Linked DNA regions of Homo sapiens. The protein of the gene in region 5 purifies or fractionates together with the protein of the main gene of each other region. This does not show direct contact. Each region holds a gene or a part of one and is shown on either strand. Other genes may lie near its edges.

Evidence for each region.
Region 1: the proteins of TENM2 (region 5) and TSPAN15 purify together in Homo sapiens (co-immunoprecipitation; one large-scale study listed by IntAct). This does not show direct contact.
Region 2: the proteins of TENM2 (region 5) and PACC1 purify together in Homo sapiens (co-immunoprecipitation; one large-scale study listed by IntAct). This does not show direct contact.
Region 3: the proteins of TENM2 (region 5) and TRDN purify together in Homo sapiens (co-immunoprecipitation; one large-scale study listed by IntAct). This does not show direct contact.
Region 4: the proteins of TENM2 (region 5) and LMAN2L purify together in Homo sapiens (co-immunoprecipitation; one large-scale study listed by IntAct). This does not show direct contact.
Region 6: the proteins of TENM2 (region 5) and DNAJC3 purify together in Homo sapiens (co-immunoprecipitation; one large-scale study listed by IntAct). This does not show direct contact.
Region 7: the proteins of TENM2 (region 5) and PCDHGB5 purify together in Homo sapiens (co-immunoprecipitation; one large-scale study listed by IntAct). This does not show direct contact.

Annotation. Positions count from the first base shown.
Region 1 is NC_000010.11:69,496,465-69,499,964, forward strand, and holds part of TSPAN15 (tetraspanin-15), read left to right. Parts: intron 1-1,744; coding exon of another isoform or gene 1,745-1,815; coding exon 1,816-1,932; intron 1,933-3,500. UniProt on the Homo sapiens protein: Part of TspanC8 subgroup, composed of 6 members that interact with the transmembrane metalloprotease ADAM10.
Region 2 is NC_000001.11:212,380,387-212,383,886, reverse strand, and holds part of PACC1 (proton-activated chloride channel), read left to right. Parts: intron 1-3,500. UniProt on the Homo sapiens protein: Chloride channel gated by pH that facilitates the entry of chloride ions into cells upon exposure to extracellular acidic pH. Involved in acidosis-induced cell death by mediating chloride influx and subsequent cell swelling.
Region 3 is NC_000006.12:123,630,451-123,633,950, reverse strand, and holds part of TRDN (triadin), read left to right. Parts: intron 1-3,500. UniProt on the Homo sapiens protein: Contributes to the regulation of lumenal Ca2+ release via the sarcoplasmic reticulum calcium release channels RYR1 and RYR2, a key step in triggering skeletal and heart muscle contraction.
Region 4 is NC_000002.12:96,730,065-96,733,564, reverse strand, and holds part of LMAN2L (VIP36-like protein isoform 2 precursor), read left to right. Parts: coding exon 1-46; intron 47-3,500. UniProt on the Homo sapiens protein: May be involved in the regulation of export from the endoplasmic reticulum of a subset of glycoproteins. May function as a regulator of ERGIC-53.
Region 5 is NC_000005.10:168,256,029-168,259,528, forward strand, and holds part of TENM2 (teneurin-2), read left to right. Parts: intron 1-3,500. UniProt on the Homo sapiens protein: Involved in neural development, regulating the establishment of proper connectivity within the nervous system. Acts as a ligand of the ADGRL1 and ADGRL3 receptors that are expressed at the surface of adjacent cells.
Region 6 is NC_000013.11:95,680,139-95,683,638, reverse strand, and holds part of DNAJC3 (dnaJ homolog subfamily C member 3 precursor), read right to left. Parts: intron 1-3,500. UniProt on the Homo sapiens protein: Involved in the unfolded protein response (UPR) during endoplasmic reticulum (ER) stress.
Region 7 is NC_000005.10:141,396,794-141,400,746, reverse strand, and holds the start of PCDHGB5 (protocadherin gamma-B5 isoform 1 precursor), read right to left. Parts: upstream 2,801-3,953; 5' UTR 2,620-2,800; coding exon 223-2,619; coding exon of another isoform or gene 163-222; intron 1-162. UniProt on the Homo sapiens protein: Potential calcium-dependent cell-adhesion protein. May be involved in the establishment and maintenance of specific neuronal connections in the brain.

The DNA.
Region 1 (3,500 bases), on a different chromosome or scaffold from region 5:
TAATGACAGGAGCTCTTGGGGCGTCGTCATGAGGATTACCTTGACTTAATTCAGGAGACGTGCTTAGAACAGTGCCAAGCACAGGGTGAGACCACAGTGCCAGCTGTGGGGATCATTGGTATGTTCTCCTGGGTGAGGACAAGTAGAGTGAGGGCTGCAGGCCCACTCAGCCGGGACAGCACTTCCTGGGACATAATCTTGGGGGCCTCAGCTGGCCTGGATCCTTGTGCCAGCTCTCAGTGGGGACTAGCCTCTCCCCACATGCAGGGCCACTTGCTGTGGCCGCTCCCTTGGCCCAGACTTTCTCTTCAGTCACAACAGGTGCAGCCTCTGGAAGGTCTTTTTCTGCCAGGGATGTGCCTGCCAGCTTGGGCTGGGAGAGCTGACTTCTGCTCCGGGTGGAGTGAGATGTTTTTATTGGAACCAGCCTTTAGCTGGCTTGGGGATTTCATTTCTCCTGGCATAGAGGTAGGAGGTGATTAATGCTGAATGGGCACTTGCTTGGTGCCAGGTCCAGTGCTGAGTGCTTCATGCATGGCACTCTATGTAATCACAGCTCAGCTGTGCAGAGCTGCCATCCTTATTCTTGCTTTACAGACAACCATCTGAGGCTCAGAGAGGCTGACCAACTTGCCTGAGGTTGCACAGCAGGGAGTGGTGGTCTGAGGATTTGACCTTGGGTCTGTTCCATTGCAAGACAAATGCCCTTTGAACTACATTGCAGAAAGACAGTTCTAGGTCCCAAAACCTGGTGGCTTAAGGGGCACTGTGGGGACTCTGAAAGGTGTCTGGCTACCAGGACGTGTACTGCAGCCCTGGTTGAGCCCTCCAGTCCCAGCTCCCTGCTTCAGCTGGCTGGCAAAGCTTTGCATGGTCCAGCCTGTGCCGCCCTTTCATCCTCATGCTCTGCACTCTCTCTGTTCCAGGCTTGTTGGCCTCCGCACCTGCTGCTGAAATACAAGCTTGTTTCTGCGTGGGGCCTTTGCATGGGTCGTCTGGCTTCTTTCTGTTTCCATGTTTCAGATGAAATATCCTCTCTACAAAGAGCCCTTTCATGACCTGCCAACCTAGAGCTGCCCCTCCCCACTTTCCCCCTATTTCTCCATTTCCAGGTTGCACAGCACCTTTCCATCCAGTGCTCACTCTCTGTCTCTCCACTGGAATGTGTTCCACCTGAGCAAGGGCTGCCTTGCTTTTGCTCACCCTGTCTCTCCAGTGCCCAGGACAATGCCAGGCACATACCAGCCATCAGGAGGGTTACCAACTACTTCCTACAGGAGCAGGGAGGGGAGGCAGGGAGGGGCTCGGCTAAGGGGAGAGCTCCAGGCAGGTTGTGAGGTGTGGGTGCTCTCCTTGCTAAGGGCAGGGCCAGCTGAGCTGGACGGGGTGGCTCCTAGGGTGGGTGCGAAGGTTGGTTGAGGTGCAGGGACTTTCACAGAATCATGCTTGGTCTCTGGGACTTTAAGGGCCATCTTTTCCAGCCTAGCACCTGCATTTGGGGACACGAAGATGAAGAAAGTGGAGGCCAGTTGTCAAGGAAGGACCTTTCCTCCCAGTGCCTAGTCACTACCCTGATATCCCACCAAGAGGCAGCCCAGCCTTGGCTTCCATACCTCTCTAGTGACAGGGGGTTCACTACCCTCTAGGCAGCCATGCCACACTTTGACAGCTCTGACTTGAAAGTGTACAGCCTCTCCCTGCCCCAGGGTGACCCACATAATAAACTGCCTCCGTCTCCTGACAGGGCCCCTTCCTGTCGTCTGAGCAGGGCCTGGGCGATGACGGCAGCTCCTCTTTCCTGCTTGCTTCCCTCAGTTCAAGTGCTGTGGCGGGGAGGACTACCGAGATTGGAGCAAGAATCAGTACCACGACTGCAGTGCCCCTGGACCCCTGGCCTGTGGGGTGCCCTACACCTGCTGCATCAGGAACACGGTAGACACTGCTCCTGTGGGGACTGGGGGGCTGTCGGGGACCCCAGGTGGTATAAATGTTCTCTTTTCTCTCTTCCCAACTTGAAGATGGGTGGTGTGGGTGGATGGCAGGGAAGTAGGAGTTGGTGGCAGAGCGGAGGCTTTCCTGATTCTCAAGGGCTCCTGAAAGTGGAGCTTCTGGGGGTCGGGGGTAGGGAGACCATGTCTTTCTTAGTGGTGTTGGTTAAAATCTATTGAGCACCTACCTTGTGCAGGCCTGCTCTGGGCACTTTGGTGGTATTTACTCATTTAGTATTCACGACAACCCTGTGAGGTATGTACTGTTATTTTACCCACTTTACAGATGAGGAAATTGAGGCACTCAAAGGCTGGGTGTCTTGCCCAAGGTTGGCAGGGCTGGGATGAAGTGCAGGCAGCTGTTGCCTGAGCTACACTCTGGAGAACTGTGCAGGCCAGGTGAGGGCAGGAGGGAGAGGTGCCCAGGCCAGGGGAGCTTAGCGGGGGTAGCTGGCTCTGCAGCATTAGTGGAGGCAGGCAGGACCTGCACCTTGGGCATCTCCATTGGTCTTTGGCCTTGAGGTCCTGGTGATCATCAGCAGCAGAGTGCTTGGAAGGGGGTCTGGTGACGTAAATGCCATCCTCTTCCTCTCCCCAGCACGATCCTCTCGGGTCTGTCACCTTGGTCATTTGGGATGATGTCTTGTGTTGTCAGCGCTTAAGTGAAAGGCTTCATCAGTCCTTGTGTTTGACAAATGTGTCCAGAAACTGTTTCAGGATTGGAACGAGGTGGAGAGCTTTGCAATTACTCATGGCCCAGATAGTCATGGAAAGTTTTTCTCCTGACATTGCCACCATTCTGTGCCCACTGCTGGATTCTGTAAACTGAGCAGCTGCGGGTGGGGGCCTCGCCCATGAGTCAGAGAGCCAGTGCCAAGTGCACTAGCTCTAAAAAAGGCCGGGCCAGGAGGGAAGCTTTGTTTGGAAGTGTTAGCTGCCATTTTAGGGTAGTTCTCTGGGAAGTGGGGTGCTGAGGAGTAGCAGAGTTTCCAGAGAGGCCTGCGTGGGGTGATCCTGAACCTCATCACCCAGGGCAGCAGCATCTGAATACCTAAGCTGAGATGTGGAAGCCAAACTTGTATTCATTCATTCATTCATTCATTCAACAAATATTGGCTGAGAACCTACTCTATGCCAGACACATTTCCAGGTTCTGGGGGTGTAGCAAACAAAGTCTCTGCCCGCAAGGAGGTGACATCCTAGTGGAGAAAACTGACAAACAAAATAAGTAAAAGATAGAGGATCATAAATGCTGAGTAGAAAAAGAAAGTAGGGCATGGAGGATTGCAGTTTGGGATACTGAGAAAGGCGGGATCTGGGTGAAGCTCTGAAGAAAGTGAGGAAGGTGTCTGGGGGAGGGGCATTCCTGGCAGCAAGAACAGCTGTGCAAAGGCCCCAGGTGGGAATCACCCCAGGGCGTTTGAGAAATGCACAGAGTGGCTGGAGCAGAGGGAGCACAGCGGAGGATGGTAGGAGGTGGAGTCAGGGAGGTCATGGGTACCCCGAAGGCCA
Region 2 (3,500 bases), on a different chromosome or scaffold from region 5:
CTACAGAAGCGAAGGGAAGATGATTCTTTGTGTAGGCATAGGAAACAGAGCAGACTTCTACAATGGAAAAGGAGAGAGAACTAAAGGAAAGGACTCTTCCCAGAGTAAAACACACTGGAAAACTCAGTGTGCTTCCACAGAGCATACTTAGCTTTCCCATGCAAGGGAGAGGCCTATTAGAGAAACAGAAATTTACTACTTTGGAAGAAACCAAAACCCAGACCTATACTAGTCAACCTAATCCTTCATTCATAAATAAGAATGGAGAATTAATGGTCACCAGACATTTGCATGAAACCAATGACAGAAAAGGACCAAGATGAACAAATAGAATGGACTCTAGAATAGGGAAGTAGAAGCTAATTAAAACAAAAAGGAAAGCAACTTTTAAACAATTCCAATGTGGAGTTATATGTATAATAGAAGCTCTTTGTCTGGATTCCCAGCTCCCTTCATCTCTCTGTAAAACACGCTAATGAAAACTCGTGGCTGCTTCCGTCCCACTAGGTGCCTATTCTCTGGATGCCCTCCTCTCCTCCCCCAGTTGAAGTGTATGCTTAGGAGGAGTCAGTGAGGGTCATTTCCAAACCTGTGTAGGCCAGTTGCACTTGTTACAATAGTTACATAATTCGACTAAAGAGTGTAAAAACCCTTGAAATAAGGGCACAAAGAGAGAGTTGTTTTTATGGAAATGAAGTTGAATGCAGCTACTGCCCCCAAGTCTGAGTGTTGGTTCATCTCCTCCATCAATTTCTTGAAGTCCACAAGCTATAAACTAACAGAGAAGTTATCTCCTCCCTATCCACCAAGTTTCCTACCCAAACCAGCATATAGCAGTGGAGGAAGAATATGATGAGAGCAGTAGAGCTCCCATTTGGAAAAGGAAGAAGGGGAAGGGCCCGCAGCTCTGCTCTGCAGCAGTGGTGGAACCCTGCAGGGTGGGACCGGTGAGACGCCTTCTTGGCATGAAGTAAGCTCCTTGGTTTGAACCTGTTGCTGCCCTCAGAAAGAGACTCCTGTGTGCTCTGGCCTCGTCCCCTGGGAGCTTCTGCCTTGGTGGTAATGCTCTGTGGCCATATCTGAAGTGGACATTAGAAAATACGCCCTCCCTGGTGGCTGCACAGCTTGTGCCACTCACTTCCTGCTTGTGTGAGCAGCTTTAGGGCTAAACAATTGCAAACTTGGAGGGCGGCTTCTTACCTGCCTCCTGCCACTGCCTATGTTTGCAGTGAGATTTCAGAAATGTGTAGGCTTCTGGCTGTTCGCATCTAATCAAGTTCATGTGAAAGTGACCCCAGTCGAGGGTCTCATCCTGTTGTATTTGTAAAATCTTCGGAATTTTGCTGATTTTCTGGTGCTTTCTTTCATGCTCTCAATTTAATGGTAGTTATTTTTTACCAAATGCTCTGCTCTGGCACAATAAGGTTTGCCACCTTTCCAGCCTGCGGGATCCTTATCTATTTCCTTACTGCCCGCCATTTTCCCACTGCCCAAATGTTTGGCTGTTCCCTCATTTTGATTTTTTTTGCAACCATAAAACACTCCAGCCGGGCGTGGTGGCTCATGCCTGTAATCCAGCACTTTGGGAGGCCGAGGCAGGTGGATCACGAGGTCAGGAGATCGAGACCATCCTGGCTAACATGGTGAAACCCCGTCTCTACTAAAAATAAAAATAAAAAAATCAGGCGTGTGTAGTGGCACGTGCCTGTAGTCCCAGCTACTTGGGAGGGCAAGACAGGAGAATCGCCTGAACCCGGGAGGCGGAGCTTGCAGTGAGCCGAGATCACGCCAGTGCACTCCAGCTTGGGCAACAGAGCGAGACACCGTCTCAAAAAAAAAAAACAAGAACACTCCAGTGTCAGCTAACAAATTGTGTATTAGTCAGAGTATAGGCTAAGCTACCAAATAAAAACAAAACCTGCAAATACAATGGCTGAGATGAGGGAGAAGCCTCCTTCTCTCTCTGAGAACAGTCCTGGCATGCAGGCCGTGTGGCGTAGTGGGCAGTACTGCCTCATAGGATAGTCCAGCCATGACTTTTGTCTTGTCACTGTGCTGTCCCCTGGGCATTGTTCTGGTCCATGTGGGCAGTGTGTGTGTGTGTGTGTGTGTGTGTCACTGTGCTGTCCCCTGGGCATTGTTCTGGTCCATGTGGGCTGTGTGTGTGTGTGTGTGTGTGTGTGTGTGTGTGCAGTGTGTGTGTGTGTGTCTGTGCACATGCCCAGGCCTGGGAAGGTGGAGGGCAAGCAGTTCCCTTTTCAGGAAATGGGGTGGAGTTGAATGAGTCCCCTTTTCTTTCGCACATTAGGAACTTTATCACGTGGCTACATTTGAGGGCAGAGATGAGGCTCCAGCAGGGGGAGTGGATTCTGCTGAAATCTGGGTTGGGAAAGCCATTCTAGTACTAAAGGAAGAAATGGATAATAGAAACCAGGGACAGTGCTTTCTGTTGCACACTTAAAACAAAATGGTACAGAAAGGTTGAAAAATAAATAGATGGACAAAGCTGTCTTGAGAAGATGCAACGAAAACCAGAAGTGACAATATTAATAGTGTGGAATTCCACGTGCAAAAGTTTGCAAGAAGGATGTTTAATATTGATAAGAGGTTCAACTCCATACTCTCCACTAAGACGACTGAACAGTTCCAAAACTTTATGTACAAAACAGCATGACATTTATATATTTTAAGCAAAACCCGTTAGAAGTAAAAAATACCATCACTTTAGAGCACGATTTAAACACCCCTCTCAGAAATTCACAGATCAAATAGACAAAAACTAGAAAGGATAAGAATTGAATAGTGCAGTTAATAAATTTAGAGTATGTATGTGTGTGTATACATGTGGGGGCACAAAACTTTGTAACTGACAGTGTACTCACTCTTTTTCAAATCTCTGTAGAGCATTTATTTATAAAAGTTGATGTAAAAGACATTTTTTTCTAAAATTAATCTATAAATTCAGTTTCTATCACAGTTAAAAGTCCCAGTGAATTTTTTTGTGGAACTAAGCAAGCTAGTCTTAAAGCATACTTAGAACACGTTCAAAAATAACCAAGACAAGTTTGGGGATGGGGAAGAGTAGTAGGGAGAGCACCTTCCCAGATCTCAGAACAGTGGAAAAACCACAGGAATCAAAGTGGCACAGTACTGGACAGAGACAGACAAATGTGTGGGCTCTGCTAGGGCCAGAAGCAGACATAGATATTGGTTCTGCATGGAATTTAGTATAGGATAAAGGAGGGAGGGGAAGAGGCTTCAAAACCTGTCTCTATGCATTGTTTGGGAAGTAGGAGTTAGAGCCCTATTTCACACTATATACAGAGCTTAAAGCCAGGTATATAAAGTATCTAAATGTAAAAAAGATTAAAAAGTGCTATAAAGAAATAGAGGAGAATATTGATATAATTTTGGCTTTCCTCAGCAAGCAAAACCCAAAGCCGTAAAGAAAAGGATTTAAGGTTTTACTACGTTAAATTTAAAGTTTCCATAGGACAAAT
Region 3 (3,500 bases), on a different chromosome or scaffold from region 5:
AAGGCTCATACAGATTATATGACTGTCTCATGGTCATGGGAAATTAGGAGAGATCTGAGGATAAATTTCATGCCTCCCATGGCTCATCCCAGTGCTTATTCAACTACAGTGCATGTCGTGCCTATAACCTCACCTAGTTGCTCACATCAATTTCCACTGCAGGTTCCAAGCTGGCTTACTTCATCCAGTGGAAGAAAGGAAATAATGCTAAATACAGAATTGTGTTTCAGGTACAGAGTAATAGATAAATTAGAAATAGGACAAAGTTGAACTCCAAAGGATTTTAGGGTAATAACACCTTTGATTCTGGCAAAATAAATTAATAAAGATAATTATAACAGCAATGATAACATATTTATTCTGAAGACATAAGATGTCAAGCACTGTATTAAGCTTGATAAATATTCATTTAATCTTCAGGGCCACCAAATGAGAATAAAGGCTAATATTATTGCTGTTTAGAGAATAGGAAGCTGAAGTTGAGAGAGTTTAAAGAATGTGCTAGAATTCACACAACTGTATGTGATATAGCTAGGATTCATACCCATGCCTGACCACAGAGTCATATTGGATATGTCTTCTTACTGTGTGAGACTGTTAGGTTGGTCAATTAGGTTGTTATTGGAGCCTACACTAGGACCATGTTACATTTAGGTAGGTTGAATCAGGCCCAGACTGGATTACACTCAAACAGCACACAGGTTTAGGGCTATAAACAGTCCTTTATCTTCCTTGCAATGTAATGTATCCAAGTTGCTGGGAATCCCATATATAATTAACTTAGTATTTACTAGAACGCTTAGTTCAAGAAAGCTTTTTATTTAAAATGTTAGAAGAGCTTATATCCAACTCTCAACTTATAAACTATTACATAACCTCAGGCTTCAGGAGAAGAATTATTGCACTATGTGTGGAATTCTTTCCTTACCATTAGCCGAATCACGTTTCACTGCTTCTGTAACAATCAAACCTATGAGAAGATTTGATATTCAAAATTTAGAGCAAAAATGGTCATTTATATTCTACACACTGCATTACTCCCATAGAGTCTGCAGCACAAGATTACTCACTATTGCTCTCAAGAAAAAAAAAAAATCAAGAATTCACAGCCAGACTACTTAACAACTAGGCAAACAAGTTATATCATCTAGCATGACAGATGGTGAAATTATGAGGCGATCCAACCTATGTTTCTGCATTTACCTCATCAAAGCAAAGGGCAGCTGCCCTGGCTTAAGCGGGGATGAGCTGGGGGTACAAAGGGATGTAGCACTAGTTTCAAGCCCTGGTCACTTCCAGGAGATGTTCTTGATTTTCCTGATAAAGCAACATACCACATATATTATTTTTAGTCTTATAAGTACATTTTAAAACTGACATTAGAAAGCTAGCCTATTCAAAAGAGGAGTACCACGATGGTGAAAGGCACAGTTAAATGAAAAGATTTGTGCATGGTTTGTTTAAGTAGAAGACTGGATTTTTTCATTATGTAGCACTTGAGGGCAATGCACAGACCCATGGATAAAAGTCTGGAAGTCACAAAAAAGGCACACTATTGGCAAAATACAAGGCAAAACCCAACCAACCATTAAAATGATAGCTAGAACTGACTCTTCTGACTAGAAAGAAAGAAAAGAGAAAGCAAGAAAGGAGGGAAGGAAAAGGAAATACACAGCCTCCAATTTTTAAGAAATAGAGGGATGAGGAATATGCCAAAATCTACACCATAGTAGGCAGTAGGCTCTGGGAACCTCTACAGTACAAACAACCCAGTTACTTCAAATAAGTTCCTGGGAACAAGAACAAGAAAATCTGGAGAACAGATGAAAAGAAATGTAAAAAGTTAGCAACCCATCACAATGTATGGAATGGTTGGATCATGATTCAAACAAACAACCTTAAAAAATTCTGATGAAACAAGTGAAAATTTAATATACTCTGGATGTTAGATAACCTTAATGAATAATTATATTTTTAGTGGGATAACCGTATTGTGGTTGTCTTTTAAAATTACTTATTATTTGGAGATACACATTCAAATATTTATGAAGGAGGTGATGTGATATTTGAAATTTGCTTCTAAATAATATGCCCAAGAAGAAAGTAGTTGGGGTGTGGGTGGGGTAGGATTGGCCATTAGTTGATTATGTTGAGGCTGATAATGGGTACATTAAGTTTCATTATAATATTGTCTACTTTTGGGATTATTTAAGCTTCTTCACAATAAAGAGTTAAGAAAAAAAACAGAGTTGATGTTGTTAGTAGAGTAAATCTTTTAATAAGAATTTAATTTTCATAACATATATGGGTCAGTGAATTCTCTGGTCACCAAATTTATTCGTAAGTGCAAATTACTCTCTAAATTGAACAGTGTCTGTTGTTACTGAAATGAAAACCAAATATGCTCATATTAAGCAGAGTAGTCTGGAAATATACTTATGTTTGTAAAAGCAGACAAGGAAGTAATCATTTTTAATATCTATTATAATATGGGAATCTGGAGGTTAGTTTCATATTATTGGTAACATTAATTAGAGACATTAATTAGAAATAGTTTGTTTTTGAGATAGGTCATGGGAAAACCTGAGAACAATTTGAAAGCCTAAGAAGTCAACATGATGCAAGAAAAAATAGTTCTAAAAAGTGCTATGGCTTGGAACATTGCATTTATTGACAGGGTATTAAGTATGAAGCTTTTGTATGACTATCTCTTTGAAATATCACAAAAACTGTGAAAGGCAGGTATCACATAAACCTGATTAGTCTGACTCTGAAACTTCTTGTTATTCTTTACTGCTCAAGTTCACTTTAGGAAAATAGAAAAAAAAAAAAAAGCAGATTGTGAAAACCAGGAGAGTATAGTTCACTGAAAATCAGAGAGAAAATATAGTGCAGAGCTGGGAGAAAGAAGCATTAAGAAAAGAGAGTGTGATAGAGTAGTAAGTGCATGGAGTTTTACTTAAGTCAGAAATTGGGGTTCAGGCACTATCTCCACTACTCAACCACTCTTGGTCTGGGGAGGATGGGGCCTCAAAAGAAGGGTCATGAACTTGGTTAATTAAAAATAATATGGCCAGAGGAATTTTTAAAAATTTTACAAGATCATGCTATTTGGCAAATTAAGTTTATGTTTTTTAAATTGTTCAAATCATCCATGATACAAAATTTGCAGTGACAATGAGCAGAAAATATAGCTGTGTAGTGTCAGCCCTTGTTAGGTTCCGTTAAGAAGCTTTTTCTTGTAGTTTTTATTATTATTTGTAATAGGAACTATTTTTCTCCCCACCCCATAAGCACATAGTATCCATGAAAATGTTCCGTTTATGAGCTTAAATGTTTCTTATTTTTTTTCCTATTTATTTTTGGTTATCATTATGACTGTAATTTAAAATTCATGCTACTTTTACAATGCAAAAATGAATTGAGGCTATTCAGTTATTATACTAAAGGCTTAGGAATCCATAGAGACTTAAGGCCTCCAATACTGTTGGCATTAATTT
Region 4 (3,500 bases), on a different chromosome or scaffold from region 5:
GGGAGTATTTGTAGACACCTACCCCAATGAGGAGAAGCAGCAAGAGGTAATGGCAAGTGTCAGAGCCTAGGTCAGCTACACTGACATCACAGTTCTTTGCCTCAGGAATGTTGTACAGGAGGGAACAAAGGAGATAGAAAGTGAGGGGTTCTTCATCTGTTGAACTTTGAAAGTTAATGTCCTTGTCAGTGTTTTTTTCTAAAGGGACTATTTAGGAGTGCACAGTCTTTTGGGAATAGCTGTCTTGAACAGGGGCTTTTTCTTTAGTGATAATCATGTTCTCTCTTGTGCCTATTAGATAGCCACTAAAATTGAGCATGTTTGGTTGATTGGTGATTTGGCTGCTAGACCAGCACCAGAGCAAGCTGAATTTACGTAACTCAGCCTCCCCTGACTTTTAATCCATCAGTGCTGTGCTCTCTTCTGCAACTTGCACACACTTTTCAGCTTCTTTTTCTTCTTCTTCTTCTCAGACCTGAAGAACAGTTCTCCTCGCCTATAGAAAAGGCTATAATTGGCCAGGTGTGGTGGCTAACACCTGTAAGCCCAGCACTTTGGGAGGCCGAGGTGGGCAGATCACCTGAGGTCAGGAGTTCGAGACCAGCTTTGCCAACATGGTGAAACCCCGTCTCTACTAAATATATAAAAATTAGATGGGTGTGGTGGTGGGTGCCTGTAATCCCACCTACTCGGGAGGCTGAGGCAAGAGAATCACACCATTGCACTCCCCCCTGGGCAGCAGAGTGAGACTCTTGTCTCAAAAAAAAAAAAAAGAAAGAAAGAAAAGGCTATAACGAGAAGGAAACTGATGAAAGCCCAGCATTTTGTTGGAACCTAGTATCTGGCTGTTGGCAGGCCTTTTTGTTACCTGACCTAAGAGTTTTTTAGTGCTTTCTTTTTTTTTTTTAATTTTTTTTTTTTGAGACAGAGTCTCACTCTGTCGCCCAGGCTGGAGTGCAGTGGCGCGATCTCGGCTCACTGCAACCTCTGCCTCCCAGGTTCAAGCTATTCTTCTGCCTCAGCCTCCCGCGTAGCTGGGACTACAGGCGCATGCCACCACACCCAGCTAACTTTTGTATTTTTAGTAGAGACGGGGTTTCACCATGTTGGTCAGGATGGTCTCGAACCCCTGACCTCGTGATCCGCCTGTCTCGGCCTCCCAAAGTGCTGGGATTACAGGCGTGAGTCACCATGCCCGGCTATTGCTTTCTTATATTGACAGTGGGTTTGTACTCTCTCTATGTCCTACGGCACTGCCATCAGATGGTGGGAAATTATGACAGGTTGTTGCTGGGTATCCTGTAGCTAAGTACCTAGCGAGGAAATCAGGATTAGAAATAGAGGCAAAGGTCACATTATTTTTTTCCTCAAAGGTTTATTATGAAAATTTTCAAACTTAAAAAACATTAGAAGGCCAGGCATGGTGGCTCACGCCTGTAATCCCAGCACTTTGGGAGGCCGAGGTGGGCAGATTACTTGAGGTTAGCAGTTTGAGACCAGCCTGGCCAACATTATGAAACCCTGTCTCCACTAAAAATACAAAAATTAGTATTTTTATTAGTATTAGTGTTAACCTGTAGTCCCAGCTACTTGGGAGGCTGAGGTGGGAGAGTCACTTGAACCTGGGAGGTGGAGGTTGCAGTGAGCTGAGACCACGCCATTGCACTGCAGCCTGTAATCCCAGCTACTCAGGTTGCTGAGTCAGGAGAATGGCTTGAACCCAGGAGGCGGAGGTTGCAGTGAGCTGAGATCACACCACTGCACTCCAGCCTGGGCAACAGAGCAAGACTGTCACCAAAATAAACAAAAAAAATTAGAAGAATAGAGAATGATCATTGTATCTGTGATGCTTAGATTCAACAGCTGTTAACATTTCCCACAGAACTCACTTTTTATTTTTTATTTTTTTTATTTTTTGAGATGGAGTCTCGCTCGTCTCCAGGCTGGAGTGCAGTGGTGCAATCTCGGCTCACTGCAACCTACATACACCTCCTGGGTTCAAGCCATTCTCCTGCCTCAGCCTCCTGAGTAGCTGGGATTATAGGCACACGCCACCACGCCCAGCTAATTTTTGTATTTTTAGAGACAAGGTTTCACCATGTTGGCCAGGATGGTCTCCATCTCCTGACCTCAGGTGATTCCTCCACCCTGGCCTCCCAAAGTGGTGGGGTTACAGGTATGAGCCACTGTGCCCAGCGAGCTCACTTTAAAGGTGGTGGAATGTGAGACCTGAGTTAGGAGAATAACCTTTTGTTGTGGATCAGTTACAGCTGCTTCTCTGTGTTCCTTCTGGGCTGTTCTTCATTCCACATACATTAACCACTTTCTAGGTGCCAGGCCCTGGGAATTAGTGAGCAAGATAACATGGTCCTTGTACTCAGTAGCACTGAGAATGCTGATGGGGGAACTCTGGGGCACTATGGGAGGACACAGCAGGAGCTTCTAACCTGAAGTGGGGCAGTAGTGTTGGTGGTAGTGGGGAAGGCTTCTTCCAGGAAGTGCCTTTTAGGTTGAGGTCTGCAGAGTAAGGAACCCGTGTCCCATGCAGAGGGAAAAAAGCCGAGGTCCTAAGGTTAAGAGAGGGGATGATGAGGCTGGGTGCAGTGGCTCATGCCTGTAATCCCAGCACTTTGGGAGGCCAAGGCGGGTGGATCACGAGGTCAGGAGACCGAGACTATCCTGGCCAACATGGCGAAACCCCGTCTCTACTAAAAATACAAAAATTAGTCAGGTGTGGTGGCATGCTTCTGTAGTCCCAGCTACTCAGGAGGCTGAGGCAGGAGAATCGCTTGAACCTGGAAGGTGGAGGTTGCAGTGTGAGCTGAGATCACGCCACTGCACTCCAGCCTGGGCGACAGAGTGAAACTCCATCTCAAAAAAAAGAGAGAGAGAGGGGATAATGAGTGTGTGGAAATAAAGTAGAATCAGAGACAGATGAGGCTAGAATGAAAAGCAGGGCCAGTAGTCTTGTTATGTTGCACAGTTCCTAGGGCTGCTGTTCACCTTGCATTCTACAATATTAACACTGTAGCCTCGGCATGTTAACTAGCCGCTGAGACTGACTGGCATCTGCTTGGGTGGTTGGTGGCTGAACTGTTTAGATGAGAGCCAGAGCAGACTGAATGTATGTGACTCATGCTCACCATATACCACTTGGGGCCAAGTTCTGAAGGATTGTGTTCCTGTTGAGGAGTCTGGACTTGATTCTGAAGGGGTAGGTACATTAAAGGATTTTATTGAAGAGAGGATCATGACTGGATTTGTAGTCATGCTGAGGAAATAGTGGTAGTTAGAAATGGATCTGAATAAGAGTTATCAGCTTTAGGGCCTGACAAGAGTTTTAAACTTGTCTCTCTGTTTCTTCCAGAAACAAATTGTTCAAACTCTGTTAGCTTCCATTTCACCATGAGATAGTAGTAATTCTGGTTTGAGAAAGTAGAAATTCTGACTTGGGTTTATTTTGTAAGGATTTTGTAGATGTTAATTAAAAAAAATTTATT
Region 5 (3,500 bases):
CTCCTGACCTCGTGATCTGCCCGCCTCGGCCTCCCAAAGTGCTAGGATTACAGGCGTGAGCCACCGCGCCTGGCTAGAATTTATTTTTTTAATGGATTTACCTAAATGGAAAGGCAAATTTATTTTTTAATCAGTAAATAAATAATAATACAAGTGATACCTAGATATGGCAAATATATATATATGTCTATATGTATATATATGTGTATATATATGTATATATATTTTTAGCAACAGGTGGCCATGAATATTCAAAGTTGAGAAACCAGTGCTCTCCACCCAGGACCTACCTGGTACATAGTAGATGCTCTGTAAATATATGGCTGTTGCCAGATTAAAGCCAGGCTTCTCTCTGCTTGATATTAACGTACTTTTTAAGGGAATTTCAAACTTGTATTCTTTTTTTTTTTTTTTTGAGACGGAGTCTTGCTCTGTTGCCCAAGCTGAAGTGCAATGGCACAATCTCAGCTCACTGCAGCCTCCACCTCCCGGGTTCAAGTGATTCTCCTGCCCCAGCCTCCTGAGTAGCTGGGATTACAGCTGCGTGCACCACGCCCGGCTATTTTTTGTGTTTTTAGTCGAGACGAGGTTTCACCATATTGGCCAGGCTGGTCTTGAACTCCTGACCGCAGGTGATCCACCCGCCTCGGCCTCCCAAAATGCTGGGATTGCAGGCATGAGCCACCTCGCCCGGCCTCAAACCTGTTTCTTAAATGGACTATTGTTATGTGTGTAGATGCCAAGTCTTTCAATGACTAGTCTGTGCCCAAGGAAGGTGGATAGATCAAAGCTCCCAGATTCCTTCTCCTTAGAGGGTTCTTATATATCCATATTTTTGGCAGCAATGTCAACGTTAAATACCTCACAGTAGTCCCAGGGCAGAAGGTAGTTATGCCTGAGCCCCTTCAGAAGTGTGTTCTTAGGCACAGACAGATCCACTGTCACACTACTACTAGTCAGGGTAGCTCTTGCCACATATGTCCTGTGCTCATTCATTCATTCATTCTATAGATACTTACGGAGCACCTATTTTGTGCCAGGCATTGTTGTAGGGCCTAGGGAGACATCAATGAAGAAAACAGGTTTTTAAACTCCCCATGCTGGTGGAGCTTGCCTTCACCAGGCAAGCTGGAGTGAAAGAGACCATAAATACAATAAATGTGGAAATGACACAGCATGTTAGAAGAATGTGACTGTTGTTTTGGGGGGACATGAGCAAGGTAAGGGGACTAGGGATTGCAAGAGGTGGGGATGGGGGGTGGCAGTTGGGGTTGGCCTTACCGGGCAGGCAGAGTCTGAGCAAGACTGAAAAGAGGAGGGAGAGCAAGAGAGGCAGAGGATACGTTTAGGGAAAAGCCCGCTGGGCAGAGGGCCTACCAACATAAAGGTGGTGAGATGAGTGCATCCCTGGCATATTCAAAGAACAGCACAGAGGCAGGAGCGAGGGAGAGCATGGGAGATGTGGTCAGACAGGTCGTGGAGAGGGCCCTTCCAGGCCATTAGAAGGACTTTGGCTTTTTCAATGAAAGAAGTGGGGAGACCCTGGGGTGCTCTGAACTTCTCAGGAATGTCATGGGCAGCTCCTGATTTTTTTTTTTTTTTTTTTGTGACGGAGTCTCACTCTGTTGCCAGGCTGGAGTGCAGTAGCACGATCTCTGCTCACTGCAACCTCTGCCTCCCGGGTTCAAGCGATTCTCCTGCCTCAGCCTCCCAGGTAGCTGGGATTACAGGCACCCGCCACCACGCCCAGCTAATTTTTGTATTTTTAGTAGAGACGGAGTTTCACCATGTTGGACAGTCTGGTCTCAACCTCCTGACCTGGTGATCCGCCTGCCTTGGCCTCCCAAAGTGTTGGAATTACAGGCGTGAGCCACCGTGCCCGGCCAGCTCCTGATTGAAAGGCTCACTCAGGTTGCTGTGCTGATAAGGAATGTGGGGTGCAGAGCGGAAGCATGGAGGCCAGTTAGACATCCCTCGGGAGGTGCTGAACTGAGTAGAGGCAGTGGAAGTGGCGAGAGGAGACACATACTCAGGACCTATTGTGAAAGTAAAAGTAAAGGATTTAGCTGCATGACCCGGCAATTCCACACCTACACATACACACAAGAAAACGGAAAACAGGCTTTCAAACAAAACTTTGTGCAGGAATGTTTATAGCAGCATTATTCATAATAGTAAAAAAGTGGAAACAGGCCGGGTGCAGTGGCTCATGCCTGTAATCCCAGCACTTTGGGAGGCCGAGGCGGGCAGATCACGAGGTCAAGATATGGAGACCATCCTGGCTAACATGGTGAAACCCTGTCTCTACTAAAAATACAAAAAATTAGCCGGGTGTGGTGGCATGCACCTGTAGTCCCAGCTACTCGGGAGGCTGAGGCAAGGGAATCACTTGAACCCAGGAGGCGGAGGTTGCAGTGAGCCGAAATCGCGCCACTGCACTCCAGCCTGGGTGACAGAGCAAGGCTCAGTCTCAAAAAAAAACCAAAAAGTGGAAACAACCCAAATATGTATCAACTGGTAAATGGATAAACAAAGCACACTGCATGCTCCACAATGGATGAAACTTAGAACCTTAAAAACATCATGCTGAGTGAAAGAAGCCAGACACAAAAGGCCATGTATCATGGGATTCCATTCATGTCAAATGTCCAAAACAGGTAAACCCATACAGACAGAAAGCAGTTTGTGGGAGGGGTAATGCAGAGTGACTACTAATGGGTATGAGGGGCTTTGGGAGGTGATGAAAATGTTCTGAAATTAGTAATGATGGTTGCATAACATTGTGAATGTACTGGAAACCACTGAATTGTGCACTTTCAAATGGTGAATTTTATATGAGTTTTACATTTTTTTTTTTAAAGGGAAATGATTAGGCCAGGCACAGTGGCTCATACCTGTAATCCTAGCACTTTGGGAGGCCAAGGTGGAAGGATCACCTGAGGTTAGGAGTTGGAGACCAGCCTGGCTAACATGGCAAAGCCCCGCCTCTACTAATAATAATACAAAAATGAGCCAGGCGTGGTGGCGGGCACCTGTAATCCCAGCTACTCAGGAGGCTGAGTGAGTGTTTCAAGGCACGGACATCCAGGAATCTCTATTGATCAGTGTGGAAGGAGTCTTTTTCTAAGGACCTAGACCATTCAGCAGAGGGCAGGACACTTGGGGCAGGTGGCATAATTCCCAATGCAAGGACTTGATGTTGGCCTGTGTGGCAGGTGGTCTTACTCTGGGCAGTCAGTACCCTTTCTTGGTTTCTCTTTAAAGAGTAGGAAGGCTGGGCCGGGCACGGTGGCTCATGCCTGTAATCCCAGCACTTTGGGAGGCTGAGGAGGGCGGATCACCTGAGGTCGGGAGTTCGAAACCAGCCTGACCAACATGGAGAAACCCTGTCTCTACTGAAAAATACAAAATTAGCCAGGTGTGGTGGCGCATGCCTGTAATCCCAGCTACTTGGGAGGCTGAGGCAGGAGAATTGCTTGAACCTGGGAGGCGGAGTTTGC
Region 6 (3,500 bases), on a different chromosome or scaffold from region 5:
GGGTAATTTATAAAGAAAAGAGGTTTAATTGGCTGACGGTTCTGTAGGTTGTACATGAAGCATGGCTGGGGAGGCCTCAGGAAATTTACAATCATGGCAAAAGGTAAAGGAGAAGTAGGCACATCTTCACATGGCCAGAGCCGGAGGAAGACAGAGAGGGGGGAGATACTGCACACTTTTAAACAACCAGATCTTGTGAGAATTCTATCACAATAACAGCTCTGGGGGATGGTGCTAAACCATTAGAAACCACCCCCATGATCCAATCACTTCCCACCAGGCCCCAGATCCAACACTGGGGATTACAGCTGAACATGAGATTTGGGTGGGGCACAGATCTAAATCATACCACCCCACCATTACACAATATACCCATGTAACCTGCACATGTATATCTTGAATCTAAAATAAAATAAAGTTAAACAAAAAAAAAGATTCTGCCCTCAAATGCTGGCTCCTTTGTGAAACCTTCCCTCACACTGTATTGTTTTGAGAGAGGGAAAAAAAGCTCCTTCAATCTTCCTATATTTTGCATTTCCACACTCAGAAGTACATGACTTCACTTTGCAATATCACTCTCTCTATATATTGCTTTTCACAATTTGCCTGCTTCTCAAAGTCCCAACTCCACAAAACTTATCAAAAGCAAGTTTGAGAGGAGGAGCTGTCTTTTCTTCTTTGTATCACCTAATTCAGTATCCCGCACATAGTGGGTATGCAATATTTGTTGAATGAATTTAACTATTTGCCTTTTTACTTAAACGTATTATAATTCATCAGAATAAAATCTAAAATACATAACAATTATCAAGTCAAACATATGATCAATGATTCATAAAGACACATCTGAAAAATCAAATTATTTGCGAATTATTGGCTGTTTTTGCAATCCACTCTCTTTTGAGCCACAGGTAATTTTTATTCCTTTGCCACATGGTCTGTAAACATTATTTTCAGAGAGGTAAGACAACCAAACATCATGCCATTTCCTAATCAGCATTAGACAATAGGTTTCTCCTTAGACAAGCAGTGATCATAAGTCAGCAAAATAAGCAGCAAGGGCAGGGAAAAAGGTAGAGTAGCCAACTATGTCTTTCACTGAAATTAGTATTAGAATATCTTATATTTTGGAGAGCAGAAAATAAGGATTTTTTTAAACTTAAAGGTGGGGGGTTAAAGGTATGACGTGAGTTACAATCAAGACTGGAAGAACCAGACTAAAGGAGGCAAGAACTCATAGTCAAAGATACTAAAGTTCAAGCAAAGGCGGTGGCAGACCCAGACCAGAGAGCAATCCCAGAGAGAGAGATGGTTATTCAGGTTGGAGCACTTAGAATATGAGGAATGAGGAAAGCCCTAAGTTTCTTCTCTAAAAAAGAACAGAAGGCTAAGCCAAGACTCTAGCAAGGTGGGGTAGAGTCTAAAAGAAGTCTTGTAGCAGAAACACAGAAGACAGTGGAATCTAGCCAAAGAAAGATAGTACAGGAAGTTCAGCATCTACTATTATCTGAATGTTCTCTCCAAAATTCAGGTTGAAATTTTTTTTATAAATTACTCAGTCTGTGGTATTTTGTTATAGCAGCACAAAGATACAACTGTAGGAGCAACATTTTCAGAAGGTGAGAGGAAATGGAATCCAGGGTGTAAGTACACAGATTAGATTTATCTGGGAATAGAGACATTTAATGTATTTCAATATGAGAAAAAGTAGCAGAATAGGTACAAATGTAGATAAGCTAGTGAATTTTGAGGTAGAAAGAAGAACTTGCCTTGTGATGGCTTTCATTTTCTCAGTAAAGACAAGGTCTAAAAGAATGAGGTAGGGGAGAGAGGAAAGGAGAGTTTAAATTAGAGGCTTCAGAAAGGAGGAAAATGTTTGAAATATTGATTTTCAAGAATAGACATAGTAAAGAATTGTGGGAGTGTTAGCAGTATTTAATGTGCATTTGCGACTGAGATTGTTTCTTTAAAATGAGACTAATCAGGGCCAGGTGCATTGGCTCGTGCCTGTAATCTCAACACTTTGGGAGGCCAAGGGATGAGGATTGCTTGAGCCCAGGAGTTCAAGACCAGCCTGGGCAACATAGAAGACCCTGTCCCTACAAAAAATTTTAAAAACTTAGTAGGGGATGCAGTGGTGCATACCTGTGGTCCCAGCTATTCAGGAGGCTGAGATGGGAGGACTGCTTGAGCCCAGGAGGTCAAGCCTACATTGAGCTAGGATCATGCCACTGCACTCCAGCCTGGGTGACAGGGCAAGACCTTGTCTCGAAAAAAAATTGAAAATAAAAATAAAGATAAATGAGACTAATCAGCAAAGTTGTCTCCATTTTCCTCCGTCCGTGTTTACCTATAAGGTATAAAAACAGTTGGCCAAGTTGAATTTAACCAGTGTTGGGTTTTGGCAGGTGAGTAAAACAGAAGATTACAGGGGCCAGAAAATAAATGGGCATTTGCAGTACACTAACTACAATAATGGACCACTCAGTCTAAAGCGGGAAAGGAGAAAAAGAGGACGTGAATGCTTCACAAATGCATGTCTTAAACCCTAAGTGGTCTGTAAACTCAAAAGCAAAAGCCATGAGTTCTATGCTACGTATATATACCTCACCAAAGAGCAATATAGTTAGTAAAAGCCTTTGCTGACTGATTAAATGAGTCTTCTCCATATTCCAGAACTCCAAATGATACAAACTCATCAGATTTAATTTTTTTAAGTAGCTTTCTAAAGATATGGAAAGAAAAATAAATCTATGGTTGAAATGTTTGCGTTCTGAAGAGCAGGTGAATGGGTTCCCATGATACTTCCATATAAACAAAGATTAACTGCAGGACACTAATCAAAAGAGACCACAGCAGTAGAAATTAAACTTAACAACAATTAATTAACTTCATATGGGAAAATAAAACCTAATTACTACAGTGCATCCCCTCCCAGAACAACTTCCCCTACCTCACAGAATGAAAACCACTGCATTTCCAGGCAGTTTCTCAGCAAATACTAACTATGTCAAGAGAACTGGAACTTTGATACTACTGCTAACTACAGCCTATCTTATTAAAGAATTTAAAATAATTCTAGAAAATATGTGACCACCTTTTATGATACTTAATTTATTTAAATTACTTAAAGTCACTCATTTTTGCTACTTTATTCTTTCCCTATTTAGATAATGTCAAGAAAATCCTAGAAAAGACAAAACATACCTTTAATAGGTTAGGTTCAAATAAAACTTATCATGGTTCAAATAAAACTTATCACAATATTTTATACGTATAGATTTTCAACTATATATTTTCAACTATTCTTTTCCCCATGGCCAAAATATATGGTTTAATCAGCTCAATGAAATAAAGAAAAATTGGGTCCAGATAGCATGTTAAGGAAGAAAAAGAGATAAAACTATGATAAGAGAAAAAAGGTTTCGTTCCCAGGCTGTGTTGCTACTCAAGTCACCAAGAGGACAAACCATTAGCAAAGAAATGAAATAACTTCCTTA
Region 7 (3,953 bases), about 27 Mb from region 5:
TAAGAGCAAACTCTCACTACTTTGTAAATCTATAAGGCTACTTCTTTTATGCGACATAAAAACTCACAATTTACTGCTCCTCTTAAAGAATGGTAGGACAGCTTTCTGAGCAGCTCTGACTTCCCTAAGACAACTCATTGGACTTGAAAATGTACGATAGTTTCATGTAAATACAGAAAATTGGGTGGGTAATGAAAAAGAATAGACATAAATGAAACTCACCAACTCAGGATGGGAAGTCGACTCGCTGGAATTACAAAGTGGAAATAAGGCCCCAGATGAATCACCACAAAGTATGTCTTGTCCTGAACTCAATTGCTCACTACATTTTAGGAAATTAAACTCCGTCTTTCCTGTATGTGCAACACATAGGTTGTAGGAATAAGGCAAAGTCCCCTGACTGTAGTTGGGGGGAACCACAGGTCCAGACTTGACACAGAGACCAGGTTGGAAGCAGCTCCAGGCGGCAGGGCTGGAGGAGCGTCGCAGGCGCAAGGCAACGGCCAGAATCACGGCCAGGAGGAAGAGCACTGAGATCAAGGCCAAGGCCACCACTAGGTAAAACTGCAGCTCAGCCTGGGGGTCAGAGGGTACAGGGCGGTCAGTGATATCCGGCAGCACCTCCTGCAAGCTGTCAGCAAAGACCAAGTGCAGCGTGGCGGTGGCGGAGAGTGGCGGCTGTCCACCATCACGCACAGCAACCAGCAGGCGCTGGCGGGCCGCGTCCCTGTCGCCCAAGGCACGCGCTGTGCGCACCTCTCCTGTGCGCAGCCCCAGGCTGAAGAGCCCGGGCTCGCTAGCCTGCAGCACGTGGTAGGACAGCCAGGCGTTGTGTCCTGAGTCTGCGTCCACGGCCACTACCTTGGTCACCAGGTAGCCGGGCTCTGCAGCGCGCGGCACCATATCGAAGAGCGCAGAGCCGTCGGGACCCAGCGCGGGGTACAGCACCCGCGGTGCGTTGTCGTTTCGGTCGCCCACCAACACGCGCAGGCTCACGTTTGCGCTGAGCGCAGGCGAGCCCTGGTCGCGGGCCTGTAGTGTGAGTTCGAAGGTGCGCAGCTGCTCGTAGTCAAAGGCGCGCTGCGCGAACACCACCCCACTTTGCGCGCTCATGGACACGTAAGAGGCCAGTGCCAGAGGCTCTAGGTCGCTGGCCATGATAGAGTAGGAGACTTGGCCGTTCAACCCCAAGTCCAGGTCCGAGGCGCAGACTTGCGCGATGGAGGCCCCAGGAGGGTTGTTTTCGGGTACACTGACTAAGTAGGACGCCTGGTGGAAAACCGGAGCGTTATCGTTGACGTCTCTGATATGTAGGATGACGCTTATGCTGGAGGAGAGGGGCGGCTTGCCCCTGTCTGTGGCTGTGATGGTGACATTGTACTCCGGGGTTTGCTCTCGGTCTAGGGTTCCATCTGTTACCAACTTATACGAATTTTTGGATGAAGAGATAATCTTAAAAGGGACTTCGCCTTGTAATTGACAATTAACCTCCCCATTTTCCCCAGAATCTTGGTCATGTATTTTGATCAAAGCAATTAGTGTTCCAGGCACCGCGTTTTCCAGAATCATTTCAAGTAGAGAATGGAATGTAACTTCTGGGCTATTGTCATTTTCATCTTGAATATTAATTTCAACTGTACATTGTGCAACCAGTCCACCACCATCCCTCCCTTCTACAACCATTGAATATTCCTTGGTCTCTTCAAAATCCAGTTTCTTTTGAGTGGTAATTTCTCCGCTCTTTGAATTCAGACTAAAGATTTGCCCGGTTCTGTAGAAGGAATAAGTAATTTCTGAGTTGATGCCCTCGTCTTGGTCAGTGGCTGACACTTGCAACACAGTGGTGCCTGGTGGCACGTTTTCCCGAAGGCTGACTCTGTACACGTCTCGGTTGAATACCGGGGGATTATCATTGGCGTCGGTTACCTGGATCCGGAGCTCAGTGGTGCCGCTTAGGGGTGGATGTCCACCGTCCAAGGCAGTCAGGACTAAACGATGGTAACTCTGTTGTTCCCGGTCTAAGGTTTTCTCCAGTGCCAGTTCCGGGTATTTACTACCATCCTGTTTCTCCTTAATTATTAATGAGAAACTTGGGTTAAGAGAGAGTTTATACTTCTGCAGAGAGTTTAAGCCAATATCTGCATCTTCTGCTACTTCTAGTATAAATCTTGTGCCAGGCTGTGCAGACTCACTTATTTGCAGCTCAAAGGAATTTTGCGTGAATTTTGGCGTGTGGTCATTAATGTCCTCGATCTCCACATTCACGTGATAAAAGTTCAGTGGATTTTCAGCAACAGCCTCAAATTCCAGAGCACAAGCTGGCTTCTTCCCGCATATCTCCTCCCTGTCTAGCCTGCTGCTCACAAGCAACTCCCCGCTCTCTGCGCTCACGGTGAAGTAAGGCTTCTCCGAACTGACGCGCAGTTTTCGAGTCGGTAACTCCTGGACGCTGAACCCCAGGTCCGTGGCGAGGTTCCCCACTACGGAGCCCTTGGGCATTTCCTCGGGAATCCTGTAGCGGATCTGCTCACAGAGCGCCGGGCAGAACAAAGACAGCAGGAAGAGAAAGAGCACTGGCAGCCTCTCAGCCCGGCCCAGCTCCCCGGCGCCGCTCCCCATCCCTCTTGCTCTCCTCAGCTTGCTCACCAGCCTGGAGACGCCAGGTTACAAATAACCTCTGTATTGTAGATTTTTGGATCTCCGAACGGGCTTTAGTTCCAGTTCCAGTTTAGGAAACGATTCTTTTTCCGAGGAGGAAGCGGTGTAAAGGCCGGCGCTGGGGAGTCTGAGCTGGGGCTGCCCTGGAAAGCGCGCTGCGGCTGCGCGAGGAGATCTGGAGCGCCAAGCTCTGCACTTTGGCCAACAGCGGCGCCCAGAGTCAGCACTAGGAAACTACAGCCTCTGCGGCTTCAAGTTAACCAGTGCAGTAATTGTTTTTGTGTGCCTAACTTAACAAGCCAAGTTTTTACGTCCATATACTTAATAAAAAATTATAACAACTTCTTTAAGGTATCTTTCTCTGTTTTCCAAATTGTTAGAAATATCACGTTGGGTTTTTATACAAACCTGCATACATTGGTCCATTCTTTCACCATTCTGCAAACATACCTTGAACTCTTAGCTAGAACTAAGTATTGCCCTTGTCACTGGCAATATAATAATTAATATGATACAGTTCTTGCTCTCAGAGCCTTCATACTATACTGATTTCAAAAATTCATTTTTTATTAGCTATGGAAACAATTTTATCATTCTTCTGTTCATTTCTATGATTTCCAACTCCCCAATATTTCTAGTGTTTTATATTACACATATTAGGGAAATCTATACTATTTAAAACTATTTTGTAAAGTTGTGGCAATTTTATACCAATCCCCAAACATCTCCTCTTCCTGACTATATTAACATTCTTTATAAAAATAATTTTTCTTTACTCTTCTACTTCAGGAAATATTCATTCAAGTATACTGCCCATATGATGTAGCTAAGAAATGATATACCCTACTACGTTGCTCTTCTTCATATCTCAAAATACTTCTCTTATGTCATATCTTTTACAGTACATAAATTCATTCTTAAGAGTTATTGGGGAAATGCTTATCTATTCTGCAATACAAGGTACAAAGGGATATTCTAGTGGATTGCATTATTATCCTATCTGAAATGACTTTGGAATTGGATAAATGAAGCTCATAAGTTCATTTACATAAATTTGTGGACATTGGTCAACCTTCTTTAGTCCATTTGTCAGATTAATAAAAACAACTAGCCAACATTTTTAGGGAGAGTAAGGATTTTCTTTCCTACCAGGGCAACTTTCATCCGAGTTTTTAAAATTGCAAAGTGCCAATAATATGTTGTCCTCTCAAATGTGCATCCAAATGGTACACAAACTATGAAGTTAACTCCCACTCCACTGAATATGCACCATACAGTAGAACACTACACAATCC